4 separate regions of the Homo sapiens genome follow, and regions 1, 2 and 3 are each linked to region 4. Evidence: fine-mapped expression QTL. A gene starts in region 4. Each other region holds a variant in brackets. All regions are shown on one strand. Distances are from middle to middle. Region 1 overlaps SESN3 (sestrin 3). Region 2 holds the start of SESN3 (sestrin 3). Region 3 overlaps SESN3 (sestrin 3). Region 4 holds the start of LNCRNA-IUR (lncRNA imatinib upregulated).

Region 1 (6,159 bases), 35 kb before region 4:
TAAAATTGGATAGTTGTTTACAGATAAGCAAAGGTCAGGTTGAAGGAATGAATGGCCCATCCAAGGAGATACTGTACAAGGAAGGAAGATTGTGGATGGAATACAGCAATAGAGAAAGATCTTTCTCAGGGTAGCAAGAGTACTTCCCTCCCCAAAATGTGGAATTGTTGAAGTCAAGAGAGATTAATGTCAGGAAGGGAGAAGGTAAACAATGTAAATTCTGCAGAGATCAAATAAAATAAGGACTAAAAAGAAATAGTCAAATTTGGCCATTTGGAAGGTCATGTGTAATATTAGTAAATGTAGCTTCTGGAGTTTGCTTGAAAAAGAAACCAGATTGTAATGAATTTTTAAAAGTAGAAATGAATGTGAGGCAAGAAATTAGAGATGGTGAGTGTTGGCTGTCCTTTCAGGTTTAATGATAATCCTGCAGAGATTGGTGAGGGCATTGTAAATTCTAACAGTCCTTTTGGAAAGCTCTTTGGCAGTATTATCAAAAGTCATAAAAATATTAATACACTTTGTTCTAAAAATCCTATTAGGAAATGTTTCTAAAATAAGAATAAAACTATAGTATGAAGATGCTGTTTATAGAAGCAAATAAACAAAACAAATTTAGAATATGAATAATGGTATAGGAAAGGAGAAGTAGTTATATACATCTGTTGATATACAGGAGAGGCCTTGCTTAAAAATTAATATGGCACTGTGGCCTAATGAAAAATGAACATGTCAAAATGTCAAATTTGAAAATCAGAAAAATATAGATATGTGTGGTTGTAACTATATAATTGCTTATAAAAAATAAAATATGTAAAAGTTAGAGTGGTAGAATTTTTTTCAGTCAATATTGCAACCATTTAGTATATTTTGTGGCTACAAGGTTAGGTACATACAGATGTAAAGCAAGTATATTTTTCTGGTGTATATTCTTTTATTATTCAATAATGACCCTCTTTATTTACATTATTACAGATTATAATAATGATATTTTTGTCTTAAGATCACTTTTTAAATTTTATTTTTTAATTAACACATAATTGTACATATCCATGGGGTACATAGTGATATTTTGATAATATATAATGTACAATGACCAGATTAATTAGGATACCCATCATCTCAAACATTTATTATTTCTTTGTGTTGGGAATGTTCAATATCTTCCTTCTAACTATTTGAAACTGTATGTTATTGTTAACTATAGTCATCCTACAGTGGTATGGAACACTAGAATTTATTCCTTCTATCTAGCTATAATTTTGTTCTTTAACAGATCTTTTCCTATCTCCCCTGGCCATAGGATGATAGAATTTGACTGATTTTCTTTTCTTTTCCCTGAGCTTTTGGTAATACATTAAATTATATATGGTGTGTAGTTAAATAGTGGGTAGTAAAGCAAAAGAAAGCAGTTTTATTTTTATTTTGTTTTGTTTTGTTTTGTTTTAGCCATTAAGTAAGCCAAATGAAAGTTTTAGATTTGGAAGGAGGGAAAGAGAGGGATGAGATTCCCCCTTACATACACCACACACACACACACACACACACACACACACACACACACACACACACAGTGAGAGATAGAGAGAGAGAAAGGGAGAGAAAATGAACACCGATGGGAAAGAATCCCTGATGGATTAATTGGTGGAATTCACTCTTGGACAAAGTGGAGGAATTACTGTTTTTAATGACTTCATTTGTGATCCATCATTCAGCTGGAGGGTCAAGTGAAATACAGAATATGAAAAAGTGCTTGGAAATTTTTAAAATTCTTATTCAGATGTGAGGTAGTATTCTACAATTTCTGTCATCTGCTGCAGGTTCTTTCTCCATTAGAAGGTATCTAAAGGATAACTGAAACTTGACTTGCTGAATTGGGGTTTTTCGTGATTTTGTGAGATGAAGTTTCCAATATACCTTAAAATGAATGGTTTTGTTCGATAATCTTTAAAGTCCTATCTAGCTCCAGTGTTCTTTGATTCTCTAAAAGTATTTCATTAAAATAGCATACTATATAAAAAATGATTTGGAAGCAGAAGATTTATTGTATAATAAGGGATTTAGAAGACACTACAATGTAATTATATTGTTAGGTATGATAGTTTTAATGGCGCATTGGCCAAAATCATATCTTTAACATGTGAAACATTTTTAAAAGAGAGTTTTAAGTTTTATTACTCTAAGTGGATATATGAAAATTGGTAGATTTTCATTGAAATTTCTTTGTAGCATTCTAGAATTTTTATATTTGCTCTGATTTGCTTTCTTATTTCAGAAACTTGTCAAAACTGGAGAAAATAATTGGTCTCTGCCTGAACTGGTACATGCTGTGGTCCTCCTGGCACATTATCATGCTTTGGCAAGCTTTGTTTTTGGTAGTGGTATCAATCCAGAGAGAGATCCAGAAATCTCCAATGGATTCAGGCTAATATCAGTCAACAATTTCTGCGTTTGTGATCTTGCTAATGACAACAACATAGAGAATGCATCTCTTTCAGGCAGCAACTTTGGGGTTAGTTTTCTTAGCTATTTTTCTTTACTATTTTTGCTTTAAACTTCTAATATTAAAAATATCTAGAGAGAATTTTTCTCCAATTAGATAGGATATTATATACTTAAAATATTTTTGCATAATTTTTATTACTGTAAAAATTTGGTACCTGAAGTTCTGATTTATTTTAAAGAGGCTTTTAAAGCAAATACATATTACTGCAAATCATAAAGACTAAACAGTGATGCATTCTAGTGATCATAGGCTTTTAATGTTAGACCCTTTGGACAGTAGATCCCAAAACAATATACTTGTATGTATAAGATGCTGGAACAACCAATGGAAAACATACCTTATGACAGCAAAAAGTAAAACAATTGTGCTGCCTCATTTTTTTAAACTAAACTATAATATTTAATATATACCAAATGCTAGAATTGTAGATTTTATGCACACACATATATACTTATAAACTTCTATATTTATAACTAAAAAAAAAATCATACTTCTGAAAATGTTGGAATCTGTCATGATTTCCTTTGAAATTGGTGA[A/C]AAACCGACTTAAGAACTTCATAACTGTGCCTGTTCCGCTGTACATAGTAAGGTGACATTTGGAGATGGAGATATTTACTGGAACACTTTTAGTATGAATAGCACCCAACATTATCTTATCTGTTTCCAGATTGTGGATTCTCTAAGTGAGCTAGAGGCCTTAATGGAAAGGATGAAAAGACTTCAAGAAGAAAGGGAAGATGAAGAGGCGTCTCAAGAAGAAATGAGCACTCGTTTTGAAAAGGAGAAGAAAGAAAGTCTTTTTGTGGTCTCTGGAGATACTTTTCATTCATTTCCTCATTCAGGTGCTTTTTTGCACTTTTTTGCCTTTTAGTTGTTCTTAGAACCCTGACAGGGCAACTTCAGTGTTTTCCATGTGGATATGTAAAAATGATTCTGCTACCATCTTTCTCTTATTTAGTTCTCCTCTTCTATCTTACCCTCATGCTATTGCTTTCCCTCAGGCTGGTTCATCCTTGAATGTATTTCAGATTGAGTTGAGAGAAACTTTCAGCTTTGTAGTTCATACTCTATCCTGGATAAAATGTTATTTAAAGCAGATCAGTTACTTATAAAGTTAGATAGACATATTTAATTTATCCTACTTTTGTGATTTTTTAAAAATGATAAGTGAAATATTGTTTCAATAGATAAAATTTTAAAAAAAACTGCCTTTTTTGTAGGTGGGGGGTGTGTGGGAAGATTATTCTCACACTGCTGCTTTTCCAGATTAGTTCTAAAATTACACTGCATTTGCATTTACATTTCTTTGGAATTCTATAAAAATGTATTATTTAGGTCATTTTCTTAGACTGAATTTGGAGGAATTCATCCTGTGTTAAAAGCTGAGATTCTTTGCTGTAGTCTTGAAAACAGTTTTTCTAATACTCGAAGGACTGAAATAGGAAATAAACTTTTCAATTACAACTAAAAAGATATTGAACACCACATAGTAAATGATATTAAAATAGCATAGACTCAATACAAAGTTTAAACTCTTTAAAAGTAATCTATGTGCATAACTTTTTTTTTTTTTTTTTTTTGAGACAGAGTCTTGCTCTGTCACCCAGGGTGGAGTTCAGTGACGTGATCTTGGCTCACTGCAACCTCCGTCTCCTAGGTTCAAGCGGTTCTCTTGTCTCAGCCTCCTGAGTAGCTGGGATCACACATAATATATTTTTTAAAAATAGAGTTCTGTTGATCTAAAAGAGGGCTTCAAAACTACTGCCTGTCTTAAAACTCATCAATCTCATAAATTTTGAGAATTGTTTCAGCCGTAACTTGTTAATGTTAAACATAAAACATTGATCAGTAGTTCTCAGTTTTACCAGGAAGAACAAGAACCCTTTTTATCATTTCTCCTGATGATCTTTTTTATGAAAAATTTTATCTACCAAATTGAGTAACCATTTTAATCCTTTCAATTAATTTAATCCATTGAAGATTACTGTCACTAAAATCAGAGCCTCTAGTCAGCAGGAAATTCCAAACAAAGAAACCTAGTATTTGGATTATTGGTTTAATATTCACTCTGCAAACACTTACTGAGTACCTGATAGAGTTTCAGCATGGTGTTAGGTACTAAGGTTTTAAGGTTAAATAAGGCATGATTCCTGCTCTCAGGGCACTCTCATTCTAGTAGCAAAAAAATAATTGTAACTCATAGCAGAATGTGAAAGATAGGAGCCTAGAAGAGGGCACTGAACCCAGTCTTGATAGGCAAAGGGTGTAGGCAGAAGAGGAACCTAGAGGAAGAATGCCTGCAGCCCTTGGCTCTAAGATAAATCTTAACCCAGTTGAGTGTGAGGAAGTCAGGTAATGACTGAGGGGCACAGGAGGACATGGTAAACAGCATCCAGGCCCAAGCAAAGGCACGATGGTAAGGAAACAGGATGCTGGGTCCAAGAACAAGTGGTTCTGTGTTGTTAGGACGTACATCATGAAACAGGTAGTGTAAAGAGAAATCTGGTTAGGTAGGTAGAGTCCCTACTGTAAGGATCTTGCTAACCTTAAGAAATATGTAACCTACCGTATTTTGGACATTTTGAGTAGAGATGTCTATAAAACAACCAGTCTGGAAATGTCTTGCACAGCACTTCTCAAACTTCAGTGTTCATGAGTCACTTGGGGAATCTTGTTGAGATGCAGAAGTTGAATCAGTCAGTTTAGGGTAGGGCCTGAGAGGCCACATTTCTATCAAGCCTCCAAGTAATGCCAGTGCTGCTAGTATGCAAGCCACTCTTGGAATACAAAGGGTAGAAGAGATGGGAAATCAGGAGAGGGCTTTAAGGTCAAGGCAAAATTTTAGAAGTTATCAGCATATAACTGGGAACAGACATTAAAAGTTGATTATAAAATTCATCCAGAGAGAAGAGGTGAGGTTGAAGGAAAATAATGACTCTATGATGAACCTTCTAGGTAAACTAATGTCTAAAAATGTAAACATTTATATTAAAGTTAGTAATATCTGTGTGTTTTCAGAAATTAATTTTTAAGAGCTTCATTAAGATCACTAAAGCTTGAAAAATATCAATGTTTTATTTCTCTTAGGTCTTTTGAAATATTAAAAATATACTTTGGATTTCAGTCTCTACCTTCTTGGAACTTTAAGCTGGGACTACAGCCTTCAAAAGTGAATTTTGACTAGAAAGTCTTGGACCTTAGCCAAAAATTATGTTCTAATTTTAATAGAAGAGGCTATTTCAAGGAAATAATGTCAGTATACATACATATACCCCTCCGCATACATATATATTCACATATATACACACATATATATAAAAATACATATTTCACTCTTAATCATTGCCAGTACCAACTTTGCTGGCTGCACAAATAAAATATAGAAAAAAGACTCAGTACAATAGCTAATTGAGTCATTTGTGTAGACTTACCATGTTTTAAAATAGAAATAAAAAGGGTTTTTTTTGGTATTAAAAAAGTCTTGGTTTGACCAGCGTTATAAAGTATTCCAGATTCTATGTAAGGATTCTAAGAATAGTTTTTCAAGTCTTTTGAAGAAAATAAATGTTTAAAGTATTCTACAGGGGTCATATTCTGTAGCTTGGTAACAGGGTTAACTAGCTTTTACTGTTTTTTGTATTTTCAGTTACGCA
Region 2 (6,159 bases), 79 kb before region 4:
ATTTTAAGCTTTAGAAGAGGTAGGTTTGTCCCAATAGTTTTAAACGACAATTTGTTCTCTGAACCTTCCTTTCTGAGCAGGGCGCTGTGCTCTGCATGTATCCGAACAGCTGCCTCAGGAAGGTCTTTTGGGTGAGAAAACAAGCCCCTTTGGCCTTTTAGTGCTGGACAAGTAAATGAACTTACATCTCTAAGATAACTGCTAGAAGGTGCTTCACAAACAAGAGGAAACCGCTAAACCAGAGGTTTTGTGTCTCTCCCCTCAAACTCGATTACTTGCGTAAATATATATATAACTCAGACATTTATCCCCTATCCGCCTCCCAAGCCTCAAGTAACTGAAATCTTTGCAAAACAAGGTTCACAATAAATGATGCGTAAAGTTCTTTGAGATCCCTGGATACAAAGTACTACATAACTGCAGTCTTCTTTACAGCTAAAGTTAGATTTTGGTGGAGAGAAAGCCTAACCACTGCCCTGAAGGAAGGAACATTTAATCCTCCCACTCCCCTCCCCCTTTCTCGAGAGATCAGGAAATATTTAGCTCAATCTTAGACTCTCTAGCGAGCTCTAGCTCCCAACTATTTATCTCATTCTCCTCACCACTTCTGCAGGGACCTAGAGAAGGGGGCGTAGCTTATCTTGGGGGTGGGGCTTGGAGGGCAGTATATTTGCATATGACACACCCTCGTCCTCTTATTGGCAGAGGAGAGCAAACTGTTCCCTGCTACCCTACTACTTAGCTAACCGCCACCTCCCTTCAGTTCCGAGCCTCGGAGATAAACTTAACTTGCCCGGAGATTCAAGGCTTCCTCGGCCCCTGCGATTGGCCGGCGCGACTCCCAGTCGGGCTCTCGTTGCTCATTGGCTGCGGGCTAGCGCCCTGGGGGCGTAGCCGGAGCTGTCCGATTGGCGGGAGGGGCGGTACCGGAGCGTGGAGGTGGTGAAGGTGGTGGGGCGGCGGAGGCGGGGCCGCACTGAGGCGCTGCGGCGGCGGTGGTGGCGGTGGCAGCGGTGGCGGCTGCTCGTCCTAGCCTGGCGGGGGCGGGGGTCTGGAAGATGGGGGCGGGTGGAACAACGGGCCGGTGAGGAGCAGCCGCCGCCGTCTCCGCCGTCGCTGGGGCAGCTGCCGCGGTGGTCGCCTCTGGCAGTGCCGCTAGCTTTCAGGCAGTCGCCTCTCCTCCCGACATCCCGCCTTGAGGAGGCTGAGGCGGAATCGCGGCTGGCGGCGGGGGGACGGACCGGCCCTGCAGTGGCCGCAGTGACAGCCCGGACCCGGCCCTCCGCCCGCTCTCGCCTCGGCGCCCGCAGCCACGATGAACCGGGGCGGCGGCAGCCCGTCGGCCGCCGCCAACTACCTGCTCTGTACCAACTGCCGGAAAGTGCTGCGGAAGGTACGGGTTCGGCCCGGGGTCCTGCCGGCGAGGGTCGCTTCCTGCCGGCCGGGGCTCGGGCGGCTCGTCCCCGGGCGCGCACTGGGGGAGGCTGAGAGGGATCCCCGGGCACCGTCCCTCCGCAGGGACTGAGAAAGGGGGCGTGGGTTGAGGGCAGGAGGGTTTGGACTACTGCGGCTTTTTATTTCCGCCGGGACAGACCCAAGTCTGGAGGGGTTGGGATATTTTTTCTTCCCTTGTTCCTTTTATTTGGTGCCTTTGCTCTCCTTTACGGCTCATTTCCCTACCTTGCTACCCCGGGTCGGCTCCTTGGGCGGAGGGCGGGAGGGATCCGTTCGATCCTCCTCCCTGTGCAGTTTAGCTGTTGATGGAGGTCGGTGTGAAATCAGAGCAGCTGGGTCGGATCCCGAGGAACCTGGCCCCTCTTTGCTGTGGCTAACTCTTGCGAGTGTTGTTTTTGTTTATTCGGTTGCTTCTGCCTTGCGCGCCTTGCTCAACAACCCCCGTTTTCAAATTGTTTGGATGGTAGTCCTGTGTCTGTAGTTCAGTCTCGAAAGGAACCAGTAAAGCATCTTGAACTTTATGCCCATGGGAAATGCAATTCGACCTGGCCAGTTCCTGAGGCTGGGGTTGGGGGAGGAGAAGACTGAGGTGGATGTGGGTTATTCCTCCTTAGCACCCCCCT[G/C]CCCCCGTGTTGATCCAGAAAAATGAGGCGCACCATCAGTTTATTGCTGCTTCCTAGAGTGACTGATAGAAAGTTTACTCCAGTATTGTTTAGCTTACTTGGCTTAATCGCCCCGCGGGGAAGGGCGAGAGGGATGGGGAAGGGAATGAAAAAAAGGTCTCTAGACTTTTTGATCAGATTTTAACAGCTGCCCCAAAGTAATATTATAATCAGTTTATTCGTATTCAAACTCTATTTTTACATTTTATTAAGTGGAAACGTTAGGTGAGATGCTTCTGTTTGTTCACTACAAATGAATTAAAATTGCTGAGCTGTGCAAATGCATCGGGACTGAAAGCGGAGATGAATATGGTACCGTTTTTAGTCAACATCTCTAAATACGGTTCACTTTGGGATTGTTCTTTCTACATTTTTTTTTAAAAAAGGAAGAAAGAAAAAAGCACATAAGTAAGCAAGCTCAAATATTTGCGCTCTTTGTCCAAAAACTGTTTTTCTTCCTCTGTGGGTCAGGCCAAGTGCCAATCAAAGTTGTTTTTCAAGCCTCTTTTCCCTGCAGTAGGGCTGCTGCTTTTTTTTTTCTTCCTATTTTATTTGAGAGCGTGAGAGCAAAGGGATTGCAGATTTGAGGTTAATTGAACAGTTAAATATGCCTTAAATTGTGTTTATTGGATATGTTTCTCTTGAAACAGATTTTTATTAAATGTGCATGTTGAGTATGTGCAGTTATTTTTTTCCATAAACTCTAGGATCAAATTACAGTTGATACTTGCTCAGCTCATTGTAGGGTAGCTTGTGAGAAATGTAATGGATCAGAAGTGCAGATCAGCTTAGTTGGATGTTAACTCTTTCACTGCAGGGCCAGATGTCATCTGAACTTAGCTTTCAAAAAAATTTATTTCTTAATTTTTAAATTTATGTTATGTCTTTGACATGAAAAAATGTGTCATTTAAGACATGTTTGATTAAAGTGCAGCCTGGTTAAAATGACAGCAAGTTATGCTTTTTAATTGAATAAGGAAAAAGAGCACTGTATTGACTTTGATAAAAAAATTTTTTAATGGCTCTGGCAATTTGTTAGGCTAATAAAATGTTTGGAGGTAATATTAGGCTTCAAAATGTATTTCATTTTTCTTTTGAGAGAGCTATGGCTATGGATCCATGACACTTTGCTAGCATTTAAGATATTACATCTTTCCTTTAGCTTTTAGGAAACTATTTCTGTTTACCTAGAAAGAACATCCTCATTTCTAGCCATTATTAAAAGAAACGTGGAAAAAGAGTATTCACATTTTCGTATTTTATAATTGCTGAGCACATCTCTGCCAGTATTCCAGTTTTTAGTAACTCCAAGGTATTTAATATTGATTCATGCAGTGGCATGAAATAACTTAATGGAAATAGGATTCTTTGAGCCAGTTATAACATGACTTGGCAACATTTGCAGCTTTTTAAAGAGTGCCACTTTGAAGTGCTCTTAAGAGAATCAGTATGTAGCATTTTAAATGTTTCATCATTCTTAAAATAACAATGAAAAGTTTATTTCTAATAAAGACATGTTTTTCTTGTTGATATAACTCTAAGTTAAAAGTCATCTATAACTCTCAAAATGTGATTCTTAGAGTTTATCTTGTTTTCCATTTAATAAAGTGTTCAGTAATGTAGCCAAGTGAGTCATAGTATTTTGAATGTTTGTTCAGTCTAATTCATAATGGAAGAATGAAACTCATGCTCATCCAGTGTGAATTACTTTTGCTTTTATATTTCTATATAATGATGGAAGAAGGGTCACCTTTATATGGGACAGAAAGTGTTATTCTCTCAGTAGGTGGCTTAATTTGTTGCAGTGTGTTGAATTTTAGGGGAACTTCACAAGGAATGGAATTCACCTTCAAATGAAATAATATGGTTTAACCCAATGCCTGAATATTGAATTATATATTGTATGAGAATTACATTTATTCTTAGAAGTCCGTTTACGGTTTTGATTTAGTATCCTCCAAAATAAAGAGACTTATTAAAATATTGAATGTACCTAATTTGGTAACCTTAGGACAGTAAAAAGAATGGAGAGGTAAACCATATCCATAAATAAATTAACCATCAAAACTATCCTGAAATCCCTAACTCTTAAGTCTAACTTGCTCTATTGTCAATGAGGTAGTTCAGTAAAGTTTTTAATAAAAGAGGAAATGCTTCTATTTATTTTGTAAAGTTAACGAGTTTTTAAGTTTAATCTTTTACTTGAAGAAATTCTAGTGATAACTAGAAGAACATAATCCTTTAATTTGAAAAGTCATGTGTCAAACTGCATTGAGGAAGGTAGGTAATTATCAGTCCACTCATCTTCCAGTAAATAAAAAAGTGGCATATTCCAATGTACTTTGGGTATTGAGCAGTTAGTGCTACTTAAATGAATAGTTTTGTGCTCTTTAGAGGATCTAACATTTAAACTTTTTTAATGTTAAGATAGTTATAGTGATATATCTTTGTATTGTTATTGCACTTTTCACTTTGTTATATGATCATATATTTTGACATCTTTTTGATGGTTTTATAAACAAAGATACTGTCAAAATGAAAAATACTAGATTGAGGACCGGGCATGGTGGCTTACGCCTGTAATCCCAGCACTTTGGGAGGCCAAGGTGGGCAGATCACGAGGTCAAAAGATCGAGACCATCCTGGCCAACATGGTGAAACCCCATATCTACTAAAAATACAAAAATTAGCTGGGCGTGGAATCGTGTGCCTGTAGTCCCAGTTACTCAGGAGGCTGAGGCAGGAGAATCACTTGAACCTGGGAGGCGGAGGTTGTGGTGAGCCAAGGTTGTGGTGAGCCAAGGTCACGCCACTGCACTGCAGCCTGAGCAACAAGAGCAAAACTCTGTCTCAAAAAAAAAGACAAAAAAAAAAAAGAAAAATACTAGATTGAACTATATGAGCCTCATTTTTATAGTCAAAATTGTTAAGTAATAGCAACTTTATATGGTTTAGCCAATAAAATGTATTTGCTCTATCTGTGGACCACTAGTTACATTATGCCTTGGTTAATCAGTTTTCTTGTGTTACATATTTTTGATTGTCAAAGGCAGTTTTTAACTTGATTATCTTAAATATCCTAAGCAGAGATCAAGTAGTTAATTAGTGATGGCAAACCTTTATGCAATGGTTTTCAAACTGCTTCGTATGGACCCTTAAGATTCTTTGGGGTTTTAAAATGCTTGAGTTGCATTAAATTTTTAAGTATGTTTTAACTTATTTTAAAACTGTAATTTAAAAATATGGGTACCCCCAAATATGTACACATAATTTTAATAACTGGAGTCTAACACCATTATCTTTCATTACAAAATTATTCTTGTGCAGGTCTTGAATTACAATTTGTTCTGCTATCTTTGTACAGATATTTGAATTTTTTTTTGTTACTGTGTCATGTATGAGAAAGATTGTCATTGATTGTGAAGGAACTGGCTTTTTAAAAAGAATTCCTTCCATATTTACTTAAGTTAAATGTTTACTTGTGAGAACACAAATTTATTGTTATCAGTAGTTGTAACTTTATTACTAAAATACTTGAAAGTTGCTTGGTATATTTATATGCTTTATAGTTCAGGTTCAATAGAAGATTTAATTTGTAAAAAGTGTTCTGCTGCTTCCCCCAACTCCCCACCCTAAATAAATAGAAAACATAACTACTAATGTAGTGATACTGGAAGCCACAGATGTGGTTGCAGTTAGGTCTTTAACAGATCTTTTGATTTCAAAGCAGAGTTTTCTCTGTAAAATGTTGATAATTTTTACTTGCCTTACAGATTGCTGTATAGTTGGAGAGAGATAGATGTGTGTTAATGAACTTTATAAACCGTGTAAGAAAGAAAAGGACAAGTCCATATATTTTTCCATTTTCCCAGACTATGTTAGTTCTTTCCGTCTTATGGGAATATATTTCAATACATACTGAGTAATTTGGTTAATACTCACTTTTCTGTCCTGTTTAATTATTGCCTGTAAATGAGAGGTAAAGATTATGCTTTTAGTCAGAATGACTTTTTTTTTTTTTTTTACTTATTTTTGATTTCCA
Region 3 (6,159 bases), 46 kb before region 4:
TTCCTTTTTTTAAACTCAAGTCAACATTTTAGATAATTTCTTTCATTCTTTTTAGTTAGTGATTTCAAAGTTGTCATCAAATTAAGACTCTGAAGAATGGTATCTCTCAACTTTTCTGTTATTAAGATTAATTGGTTGGTTTTATTGGGTTTTTCAGTTTTAACATTCAAATCAATCTTTTATTTCTATGAAAGTACTTTAGTACATGTTTATTATGCTATGTTTATTCCTGATTTTGTAGCCATTTTATATCTTTGCATTATCCTAGCAGCTGAACAATATTACAAAGCAACACTATACCATAGAACTTTTGGCAATGGTAGAAATAGCCTAGATTCGCATTGTCCTGAATGGTATCCACTAGCCACATGTGGCTGTTAAACACTTGACATGTGGCTAGTACAATTGAACTCTAAATTCTTAACTTTATTTAATGTTAATCAGCTTAAATTTAAATAGGCACATGTGGCTAGTGACAGCGAAAGAAACTCAAGGACTTGTTTTGGTTTTTCACAGAAATAAATAAGATTTATTATTTAAAAGCCATTGTATAAGATTCACTAGATCTTTGACTAAATGATCAAACTCATTTATTCCCAAAAGTAAGATAGTAGCTTTAGCTGAAATGCTTAGAGAAAAACATAGCAATATTATTCCTCAAAATTAGTGCAGCCACTGCATATTTTCACTTATAGCATAGAGCAATCCTTGAATTTTTCTAATCAAGTAGCATCTGTTGAGAAAATATAGCTGTTTTCGTTTTGGGTTCTTTTTTTTTTTTTTTGACATTGAGGAAAATAAGCAGAAGAAAAATAAAAATATTTTATATTATGCTTTGTGTGTTTTACATTTTTATGCGGTATCTTCTCAAAGCTTCCCAACAATGGGGTAAGCTACAGTCTAGAATTGATATTATTCTCACTTGTGAGGGGAAAGGTTTCTTGGCATGAGAGAAATCTTACAACTGAGTAGGGGGTGTGGAAAGGATGACTTAAAGATTTAGTTGGTAAAAGACAGTTACAGGATTTAGCAACCATTTGAATGCAGGCCCCTAGGATAAAGAGTCCAAGATAACTGTGAATCTGAGCCAGGGTTGCTGGTATGTATGGTGATTTTATAACCTACAGAGGAAAGTGAGGAGGAACAGCTGGTTTGAGATAGAAGATTCATTTTAAACATGTTGATTTTAAGGTGCTAATGTTGCATCCAGGTTATGTCACAAAATACCCAAAGCCAGACTGGAGGGCGGAGAAGAGCTAGCGAGTTCTCTAGATAAAAAAGATTCAGGAGGCAGTTGCATGGGTTGCTCATTTTCGTATCCTGTGCCCTTATTTTTTCCTTCATCTGCTCCATCGTCTTCCCTACAATATAGTCACCATAACAAATTTGAGTAGAATTTTGTTTTGTGTAAAGAATATGGTAGCCATAGAAGAGAACATTGACTTGAAAGAATAATATTTATAAGGAAGGAGTTGCAAGGAACATCTAGGAAACATAAAAGTAAATGATCAAAGAAGTTAATGGGTTGGGTGGTAAAGTGTTATGGAAGCTCAGCAACTCGGGAGGCTGAGGCAGGAGAATCGCTTGAGCCCGGGAGGCAGAGGTTGCAGTGAGCTGAGATTGTGCCATTGCACTGCAGCCTGGGCAACAAGAGTGAAACTCTGTCTCAAAAAAAAAAAAAAAAGAAAAGAAAAGGAAGCCCAAAAAGAAGAGAGTTGCCCAGAAGGAGGTAGATTTGACTTGTGCAAAGAGGTAAGAAAGCAGGGGATTACATAGGGAGAATCTCAGCTGTGATCTAAAGACTGTGTTTACATAAAAAGCAAAAGGTAGAATGGTGGTTCCTAGACCTAGGGGTAGGGAGAAATGGGAGTTGCTGTTCAATGGCAATAAAATTTCAGTTATGTGAGAAGAAAAAGTCCTAGACCTCCTCTGTACAACATCATGCATATAGTTAACAATACTGGGGTTGTACACTTAATTTAAAAGGGTAAACCTTGGGTGTTATTTATTTATTACCACAAGAAAGAAAGAAGGAAGGAAAGTGAGCGTGCCCTTGATACTTTTCTGGGGACTGTAATGTAAGCAGAAATTGAGACAAGGGTCCTTGGAACTGGCTGATAGTTTTTTTTCTTCCTAATTTGCCCAAATAGGACAAATAGGTTGATTGGTTCAGAGCATTTCTGCAATTACACTAAAATGCTTGGTTCTGGGATTGAGTAGGTGTGACCATCAAATGAATAACTCTGTGGAGCAGTCATTTAACATTTCAAAAAGTTATAAAAATGTCTGAAAATGCAATTTTAAAAAAGCAAAACCAAATGAGTCCAGAGCAGCACTGTCCGGTAGAACTGTCTGCAGTGGAAGATGGAAATGTCTGCGCTGTCCTGTAGAGTACACGTGGTCCTATGTGGCTGCCGAGCATCTGAAATGTGGTTAATGTGGCTAAGAAACTGTGTTTTTAACTTTATTTAATTTTAATTCATTTAAATTTAGCCATATGTGGCTGATGCTTACCATGTTGGGGAACGTAGGTCTAGAGACTTTAGAAAAGTTAGTATGAGTGAAGTAGGAACTTGGTCCTTGGACATTTGGGATTTGAAAGAAAGGCGGAGGAAAGGCATTATAATTTGACCAGAACTCTAGCTTATGGTCTTATCTTAAAAAAAAAAAAATCAATCTTTTGGATATAGTACTATCCTATTTCTTTTGTATTTGATCTTACTGACTTTAAAAGCATGCAGAGATAGAAAAGTGGGTGGAAACAAATTTTCAGAATGAAATGTGTTTAGAGTAGAATTTATGAACTGTGATCATTTTTAAAATTGTATTTCACCTTCCTATGAATAGACAGAGCAGCCAACTGAGACAATACAGTAGTAGAGTCCTTGCCAGAAAAGATTCTCCTTATGCAGAAGCAGAAACTAGACTGATCATTTCAAAAATGGCAACATTAAAAAATATAATTGAAGAAGAATACATGATGTTAAAACTTAAAAATTGTGTTAGTTTTCTTTTATGTT[C/T]GGTATATAAACAAATATTTTAGGTCGGGCCATATTTTATCTCTCCTGGACTATCACCAGAGCTTCCCAGCTGGGATTTTTCCCTCTCAGGCCCAGGGTCTACATCACCCTCAACACTATTAAAAACACAGATCTGATCCACATCTCTGCTTAAGAACTTTTTACTACAAAGAAGCATACAATAAAACGCTTCAAACACGTTTTTGAATGCTGCTTTTTACTTTTGAAATTAGTGAGTTAAGTGGACATTTTCTCAGCCGATGAAAATAAAATTGGTAAGACATTTTTGTTAGCACATTGGCAGTAAGCAACAAGAAGTTTGAAGATATTTATAACCCAAACCATAGTAAGTCCACTTCTGGGAATCTTCCTAAAGAAACTATCGTAAACACAACAAAATATGTCCCAAGTCTCTTTATATGAAGGTGTTCATCACAGGATTACTTATAATAGTGAAAACTGTATATAACTAAAATGTTCAACAGTAGGAAAATGACTTAAGTAAATGATAATTGCTAAAATGATGTCTTCTTTCATCACTTTTTGTATGCATCTGCGATGGTATATGTCATACGCCGTAGCTGGTTATATGCATTCTGCCAATCTAATTCTTATTTGTGTCCTCACTGCCTAGCACATTGTAGATGCTCAATTAATGTTTGCTAAATAAATGAAGAAATCAGTGTTGACACAAATGAAATTGAGTTTAAGTTGCTTCTTTTCAATTGCTAAACACTAAGGGATGTTATATTCATTTAAATGCAGTACCTTTCAGTTCCATTTATAATGAAAATATTTTTTTCAGATTTAAATCTCACCTGTTCCAGAAAATATTTAAAGTAATAATATGAAACATTTAAAGGTAAATTTAGTTGCTAACTGTATCAAATTGTGATTTTTATCAACAAATTTAATAAATCATTTTTTGTTTCCAAAATCCCATTGTCCATCTTAACGTGAGTTTATATTTTGCTCCCCCTACATGTTCTCTAAATTTTATGTATTTTTTATTATTTAAAGATTTCGATTTATCTCCCTGTTGAAATTTTTTTCCTCAAACCTCATAATCATAATTTTTCCTCATAATCAGTTTTTCCAGCTGCTTTGTTCATTTGAAATGAATAGTTGTCCAGAAAATTGCTTTTCATATACTACTTCGTTAAGTTTGTTGTTGTGGTGGTTTTGTGAGATGAGGTCTCACTCTGTCACCTGGGCTGGAGTGCAGTGGTGCGATCATAGCTTACTTTAACCTTGTAGTTCATTGAGTTATACAGAGAGTGTTCGAAATTTTTTTTTCTATATCTTATGGAGACTAGCAAAAGGAAGAAACCTGTTATTTTCCTTTAAATTATCTTTCTGGGTAAGTCTAGATTTGGTTGACATAGACAAGAAATACCAATATTGGAATCCTGACTTCATCCTCTTAACATGCAGTCCTCCAGTGTACTTGACCAGGAGATTGAGGCCTTTGTCATAATTTTGTAAATATAACCTAGAAATATAAAGTTATTTCTGAAACTTTACCAGGTTAAGAGTATTATTGTTTAATATATTTATTTCAATAGAACTCCCAAAATTGATGAAGATTGTGTGTACAGCTCATGAGGGCAGAGAGCATATCTGTTTTCCTCACCCTGTATCCTCAAAGTCTATCACAGTATCTGATTAGGCTCTCAAAAAAATCGTGTTAAATGCCTGACTGCCTACTTTCACCAATTTGTTTTGTAACTGGTTCCTAATGAAGTAAAGGATTTAAGAGATATAAATAACTATTTTGTGTTTGATAGGCTGTTTGATTGTAAGGACCAAAAAAGACTCAGGTTACCTAGTAATGGGGGGAGAAAGGGAGGGTGAGAAGAAGGACCCTATTCTCTGATTCGAATTTTTATGGCTTGTATCGCACTTAATGAGGATACTAAAATATTTTTCAATCTAAAAAAGTTAACAAATTTTTAAAAACTTAAAAAAAAATCAGCATTCAGACATACCATTGGCAATCTGTCAGTTGTTAATACCACCAATAGAATAGCAAGTGGAACAATAAGAATTACTATGTTCCCCATTCTTTATATTGAACTAACCTCTCCTTCTCTAATTTTTACATTTTTCTTAAAGTTTCAAAACTTCATATTAGATATGCTTATTGCTATTTTAGGGGAAAAAAAGCAGACTGGGTAATTGCTTTGAAGGGTTGTTATGTAATCTTCTTCGAATTTAACCTTTTATTTAGTTTTCAAATTGATGTCTAACAGTATACTACTATAAAACACTATTTTATTATGGAGGTTAATGGTTTTCAGGCATGTCAGATGTGGGCTTAAAGTTTATGGTGTAGACTGTGACTAAGGGATATGACATTTTGAGGAGGCTGTGCTGCACTTAGCACTATGGTAGGTGTTTGCCCCATTATCTCATCCATACAGTGGCCCTATGGGTTTTCTTTGATCTGAAACCCAACACTTACTCTGGTCTCACATAATTTAATTATTTATTCTCTTTATTTTAGTACCTTAGCAATAAATGTGTACAAATTTAACATTTCTTAGAAAGTCATCATTGATACATAAAACTTTTCTTTTAAAAATAGGATAAAAGAATCAGAGTGTCTCAACCCTTGACAAGAGGACCAAGTGCCTTTATTCCAGAGAAGGAAGTAAGTTTATCTGTCTTAAAATATAAAAAGTAAGATTTAAAAATAACTTAACTGTATCAAAGAATATCTCCTGTTAATATGAAAGTAGGAATGAATTTTGCTTTTGAGTTTCTTGTTCACATGTCAGAAAACCATGGAGATATTTTCTTTTCAGCTTCACAAATATTTACAGAGTGCCAATTATTGTCTTAAAAGAAGGGACTAGTAGAAATAGAATAATACCTGATCATTGCCAGAGTCAACAGTTCTTTCATCATCAGATCACCTTTTTAGTGACCTTCCCACCTAAGTGCAGATCCAAAGTGACAGTAACATTTCGGGAGCTCAGTGACAATAGCTGATCTCGGTGAGGACGATGCACCATGCACTGGAGAAGCTATCCTGCTTATGCCTATTTTCCTCAGATAGCCTGGGGCTGCTCTAAGTTGCCTACTACATATAAAGACTTCCTGAAGCATAGTCATTTTTCACAGTATATATTTGAGG
Region 4 (6,159 bases):
TTGAGCAGGTTCTGTGAACAAGACAAGACCATGGGAATTGTAGTTGAGAAGAGGAAACAGACTGCAGGTACATGCTGGGGGAACCGGGGCTCAGGGCTTCGCCCTGCTATGTCTCTACTCACTCTCTGATGATCTCTCCAAGGGACTGATGGGGCTTTCAGTCCCATGCCTGTATCATGGCAACCCATATTTCTATCTCCAGCCCAGCCCTCTCCAGACCTGTGTGTCTGCCCAATCAATCTCTCCACTTGTTTTTCTAATGAACACCTCAAACCTAAAATATATAACATTAAGCTGTCTTATCCCTCTACCCCAGCATCTTCCAATCTCAGCCAGCAGCATCTCCGTTTTTCCAGCTGCTTGGAGTCATCCCTGATTCCTGTCTTTTTCTCATACCCAAAAAAACAATCAGACAGAAAATCTTATATATATGTAAATCTTCGCCCCGGTTGGAGTGCAATGGCGCAATCTCGGCTCACTGAAACCTCTGCCTCCTGGGTTCACGCTATTCTCTTGCCTCAGCCTCCCGAGTAGGTGGGATTAAGGGTGCACACCATCACACCCAGCTAATGTTTTGTATTTTTATTGATTGATTGATTGACTGAGACAGAGTCTCGCTCTGTCGCCCAGGCTGGAGTGCCGTGGCGCCATCTCGGCTCACTGCAAGCTCTGCCTCCCAGGTTCACACCATTCTCCTGCCACAGCCTCCCGAGTAGCTGGGACTACGGGCACCTGCCACCACTCCCTGCTAATTTTTTTTTTTTTTTTTTTTTAGTAGAGACGGGGTTTCACCGTGTTAGCCAGGATGGTCTCGATCTCCTGACCTCTTGATCCGCTCACCTTGGCCTCCCAAAGTGCTGGGATTACAGGCGTGAGCCACCGCGCCCGGCCTTTTATCCTACTTTCAAAAAACATACCCAGAGTCTGAGTGTTTCTCCTTACCTCCAGCGCCACTCCATGGCCCGAGCTCTGTTTCACCTGGTTCTCACCTGGATCGCGGCCTCCAATTTGCGCAGTGACCCCTACAGTCTATTCTCCAAACAGCAGCTGGCGTGGTCATTATGAAAAGCAATGTCCACCTGCTGCTCAAAAACCCACGAATGGCTCCCCATTTCTTTCCCATTAAAGCCAAAGTCTAAAACATTTACAAAGCGTTATATGATCAGTTCCTACCTGCTTTCCTTATGTTGGAGGCTGTGAAGCTCCTTAATATATAAACAGTTCTCAGGAGAAGGAATAAAAGCACAGCCACCTCCTCAGCAGAGCCAGTTTACACTCTGCTAGAGACAAGAGGAGCTGGGACCTTCTCCCCTAACCCTTACTGCATATGTGAGAGAAGCCAGACCTGCTGGATCGACTGGAAATGCCCAGTGCCTGAGACGGGGAGGAAAGAGAAGCCGTGGGGAGGAAAAGACTGTAAACCTAAAAGGCATTGAAGTCCCACCTCACCAGTTAGGCAGGGAGGAGAAAGAGGCCTAGGGCGCTCGGGAACTTGGAATAAGGTTGCCCTCTGCGGGTGAAACTGTGAAATATCTCACAGTGGAGGAGGGCGGAGACTGTTCGCAGAGGGGCCCGGCGAAAACGTCACCCTACTGGAGGTACGAACGCATCGCAGACTGGGGGCGCCCGAGCGCATCCCAGACGCGAGGGCAAAGGCCCAGGAGGACTGTGGGGCTCTCGGAAGTATCCGATCACCTTGCGAGGAGTCCGCCGGCTGTCCGAGCCTGATGTCACTGCAACTTCGATTCCTCCGACGCCCCTACTCTTACTTCCCAGTCTTCAGGCAACTTCTCCGCTTCGGCCTCCCCTAGGCCTTGGCCCCAGAGAGGGGACGCACTCCACAGGTGGATTCGCACGTGTGGGCCCTCGGCAGCACTTTCTCGTGCAAATTAACAGGTGGCCCTCATTGTGGAAGCACCGCCCAGCCTTTCCCGGGGAGGTCACCAGGGCGAGGCCGCTCAAGGTCTGCAGGCGCCCGGCGTTAGCGGGATCCTCCCCGCGCACTGGTCCGAGGAGGCCAGGAGAGGGCGAACCAGTCCCCGACCAGCGGCCCTTCCGGGGGTGGGCTCTGACCCCACCGAGCGGTTAGAGGGTCCAGGAGCTCCAAAGGGTAGGGCAGAATTGGGTAGATGAGGGTGCATTTTTCTGGGAGGAGTCTAAGGCGTCGCTGACTCTCAAAGGCCCGCATCCGGAGAAAGGGAAAGAGCCCCGTCCCGGGAGGAAGGACGAGAGGCTGGCCCGCGGGAAGGAGCCCTGGCAGTCCCTCCTGGCCTAGGTCTACCTCTTTGATCTCACCGTCCCCGTGGCGGCGAGTGCCACCAAAGATGAGAGAGGCCAGCAGGTATCGGGAGAGAGCTGAGGGGTCGGCGCCGGCGGGACCCCAGATTGGAGCCGCCGTCGTCGGACGGGCAGACCCTGCTGTAATAGCTCCCGGCCGGCCACGGTAGGCAGGTGGGGCCCACCGCGAGTCCTAGTGAAAAACACCTTCCTCTTGATTCTCTCAAAGGAACCCGAGCCCTGGGAAGGGACATCAAGGCGCTCCCGAGACTCCGGAGACGGCCAACAGCCCCAAAAGAGAGTACTCGGCTATCCAGCCGCCCTTATCCAAGCGGAGAATCTCTCTCCACCTCCGCCCTCCCGGGACTCAAAGTTGTTTGTGGAGCCTCCAGGTTTCCTTGTAGATGGGCACGATATGCACTGTGTGCGCGCGCGCGCACACACACACACACACACACACACACACACACACACACGTATATGTATTTTTCCAGTGGCCACTGCAGGATTGCCAGCTTTCGGAAATGAGCATCCGCTCTCTCTCTCGGGACTGGGCGTGGGGTTCACCGAAAGGAGAGGAAGAGACCTTGCGTTTGCGCTGGGCCTGCTCGATGCCAGGCCATTCTAGGCTTCTGTCTATCCTGGTTTCTGGTCTGTGCGTTGTGGGTAGCAGCATTGGCGTATTACGCCGGAGGGAGCAGGCTGAGCGAGGCTCCAGAAGGTGCGCAATAGCCGGAGAGGAAAGGGCGATGCTGTCACCTAGCCCCCTCCCTGAGACTCCATTCAGCCCAGAAAAAGGAGCTGCTTTCTCCCCCATCTACCCTAGGAGAAAATAAACGGTCGCTGGCATTTTCCTGCGTCTTTTAATTTTGCCAGAACTGTTTTGGGTTGGCTATTGTGGGCCAGGATGGAGGCCTTCTCCTCCCGGGAGCAAACCTGCCCACGCCCAGGCCGGCAGTGGAGTCAGCCTTGCCCCAGCCTGCCCTCCAGGGAAACAATGCCCCTTTGTCCCTCGCCCTCCCGGGGCTGATACAGCCCCTCCCCTTAGCTTAGGGCTCCCTCCCGTTAGAGCATTCCAATGATTGCCACAAGTCACACTTTTCTTTGAGGTCTCTGCCTGGGAAGAAAACAAAGCAGCCCTCCTAATCACACGGAGGGAGTGGAACTTTTCCTGCCCTCTGACTATGTGCCAGCCTTGGCTCCTCCCTGAAGCCCTGTCTAGAGGGCTTATTAGGTCACTTATGTTTTGTACCTCGTGTGAAGTCCCACAATCAGTAGATTATAGAGGGGAGCACAAACCCAGCAGTGTCTGACATAGAGAAATTACACATACATACATACACACATACATACATACATACACACACACACATACACACATACATATACATACATACATACATACATACACACACATACATACACACATACATACACACATACACATACATACATACATACATATATACATACATATATATAGTCTTTCCACCACCCAGGATTGAAAATTAATGCTGTTTTTGACATTGTCCGTTATCCACCCAAACCCTCCAAAAAGGCTGGCTGGCATTTGCTTGGCTCTAGTTCTACCTGCCCACCTTCTCCTTTGCCTAATCCTGAGTTTTCCCCTTCCCCACGTGTGTTCCCCTTGAGCACTTTTTTGCTAACTTCCTGCATGCTACTGTCATCTCAGAGACTGATTCCTGGGGAGCCCAACCTGTAACATGGAGCTCAGTGGAAAGCACATGGAATGTGGACTGAGACATGACTGTGTTCAAACCCTGGCTCTGTCGCTAAGTGGTTACTTGGTTTGGGGCAAGGCATTTAATCCCTCTAAAGTTCACTTTCATCTGGGGGGAAAAGATAACTGTGAGGATTAAGTGAGTTTATATATAGTGTATGAGTGCCTGGACCACTGAAGCAGTGCAGCAGATGTTAGCTCCTCCTTCAGTAATATTTATTGAACATGGCATCCCAAGTGTTACTAGAATTTATATTTCTACTTTATAAATTTTACTAGAATTTATGTTTTCATATTCTTGATACTAATACTGCATTTTTGAAAGGGGTGACTCCTTCCTTATTAAAGTTTTAGAACACTATCCTAAGTGAAGTACAATGGTTACTAAATTAGATGACATCTGGATCTGGCTGATCTTGAACAAGCAGGTTAATCATATAACTTAGCTAGGTCATTGTGAAATTTTCTCCTGTGTAGAAAGAGATATTAATAGTAACTACTGTGGCAGATGGCATTTTCCATAAATGCCTACAAAATACTTTCCATCTCAGCTGCTCTTCAGAAATGACCTTGCCATTCCTCCATCAACAGATGAAATCTAATTCCCCTTCTTTTGCATCTGGGCTGGCCTCAGGGACTTACTTGGGCATTGGAATGTGGCAAAAGTGATGGTCTGGGACTTCCAAGGCTAGTTCATACAAGCTAAGTCATTCTGTGTGAGTCTTTTGGGATGTTCCCTCTTCCAACCCAGCCACCATACTGTGAGAAGCCTGAACACTTGGAAAGCCATGTGTAGGTGCTCTGGCTAACAGTCCCAGCCAACAGCAAGCATCAACTGCCCACCGAGTGAGCTCTCCTGACATCCAGCACCTTTGGGCCTTCTGAAGACTGCAGCACCAGCCCACATCTGGGACCCCAAAAAGAATGGGAATAAACTGAGCCCAGTTAGTATACAAACCAAGACAGATAATAATAAATGGTTGTTTTAAGCCATTAAGTTATGGAGTGGTTTGTTATGCAGCAATAGAAACTAAATCACTAGCTCCTAGGGTTATGTGAAATCAAGGAAGACAATGCATGCAAACTGATTACTAATGTGCTTCGTAAATAATTAATACGGTTGCAGAAAAAAGTAAGCTGATTATATGGGGAGATAAAACATGGGCACAAATAACTGCAAAACTAAGCAGGCATCATCTGAATCAATATTTAGTGGGCACCTATCCCATGCCAGACTGTCTACATAATCATAGAATCTCCAAGTAGAACAGAATTTGGGAGCTATTCTAGTTCAACCTCCCACTTAGTGAGGACATTTCTTCTTGAATGCTTGTTTAATACAACTATTATTTATTAAGCCTCGCTCCGCACCAGAAAGTGTGGTAGATGGTAATGTCAGGAAGTGGGATAGAAAGATAACTAAGACACAGCCCAGGGCCAGAGGCAAACACATGAAGAGTTTCTGCTCAGTGTCATATGTGCAGGGAGAGAGGATACGAAGAAGACAGATGCATTTCCCCTGCATGGAATGGGGTGAGTCATCTCACTATCGGCCAGCTCTGCTGATTCAGCTTCCTGGTGCTCTGGATTCTGCTGATATATTTTCTGTGCATCAACTTGTATTCTGAGTGGCAGTTCTCCAGCTCTTTGCCTTCTTGCTCCATATACCTAAGTTGGCTGTTTACACATCCACTTACCCATCTTTGCTCAAAGCTGACCCTTGTCAAGGAAGGAGGGGTTTGCCTGGATCTTGAACACCAGCCTGTGGGCTCTTTAAGGCCAATGCCTGGATCTTGTTCATCATTGAGGCCCCAGCTCCTAGAGGCACCAAAATAAAACAAAACAAAAGAGAGAGAGAGAAGAAGAAGAAAACAGCCACCAAAAAAATGCATTTCTTTTTGTGTGGGTTCAGAAAAATGCCAGAGATTCATTTAATTCAAATTTATTTCACACAACTACATCAGGGAAAATTAGCAGTGTAATCTGCTTTCTCAAGTTTCATGAGCAACGCTAAGTTTTTAATAGGCTGAGTGTTTAATAGGCAAGTAAAATCAGCCAACAAACAAACAAACAAAAAAACGCTGGAGTTCGAGTCCTTTACAGCCAAGTAGTTGGCAGCTGCTACGGTTATTAGCTATCAT

Evidence for each region. PIP is the estimated chance that this variant, and not a neighbour inherited with it, causes the effect.
Region 1: its variant is fine-mapped to the expression of LNCRNA-IUR in whole blood (INTERVAL, PIP above 0.99).
Region 2: its variant is fine-mapped to the expression of LNCRNA-IUR in whole blood (TOPMed, PIP 0.98).
Region 3: its variant is fine-mapped to the expression of LNCRNA-IUR in whole blood (INTERVAL, PIP above 0.99).

The regions. Positions count from the first base shown.
Region 1 is chr11:95,181,609-95,187,767 of GRCh38, reverse strand. It overlaps SESN3 (sestrin 3), which reads left to right. Exons shown (of 10, transcript NM_144665.4): 5 at 2,276-2,512; 6 at 3,174-3,348. Among named protein-coding and RNA genes, the nearest start is that of LNCRNA-IUR, 34 kb to the right of the region's middle. The variant A/C (reference allele first, on the strand shown) is at 3,044.
Region 2 is chr11:95,226,017-95,232,175 of GRCh38, reverse strand. SESN3 (sestrin 3) reads left to right here and starts at 974. Exons shown (of 10, transcript NM_144665.4): 1 at 974-1,393. The coding sequence starts at 1,316. LOC100129203 (a long non-coding RNA gene) reads right to left here and starts at 1,990. Exons shown (of 6, transcript NR_110295.2): 1 at 1,681-1,990; 2 at 603-1,051; 3 at 1-124. RefSeq lists an enhancer at 1-595 and silencers at 951-1,100, 1,111-1,420. The variant G/C (reference allele first, on the strand shown) is at 2,079.
Region 3 is chr11:95,192,971-95,199,129 of GRCh38, reverse strand. SESN3 (sestrin 3) reads left to right here. Exons shown (of 10, transcript NM_144665.4): 2 at 5,608-5,673. Among named protein-coding and RNA genes, the nearest start is that of SESN3, 35 kb to the left of the region's middle. The variant C/T (reference allele first, on the strand shown) is at 3,021.
Region 4 is chr11:95,147,039-95,153,197 of GRCh38, reverse strand. It overlaps LNCRNA-IUR (lncRNA imatinib upregulated), which reads right to left and starts at 2,659. Exons shown (of 3, transcript NR_110303.1): 1 at 1,450-2,659. RefSeq lists a silencer at 1,430-1,539, enhancers at 2,060-2,189, 1,790-2,331, 2,332-2,873 and a cis regulatory region at 5,259-5,889.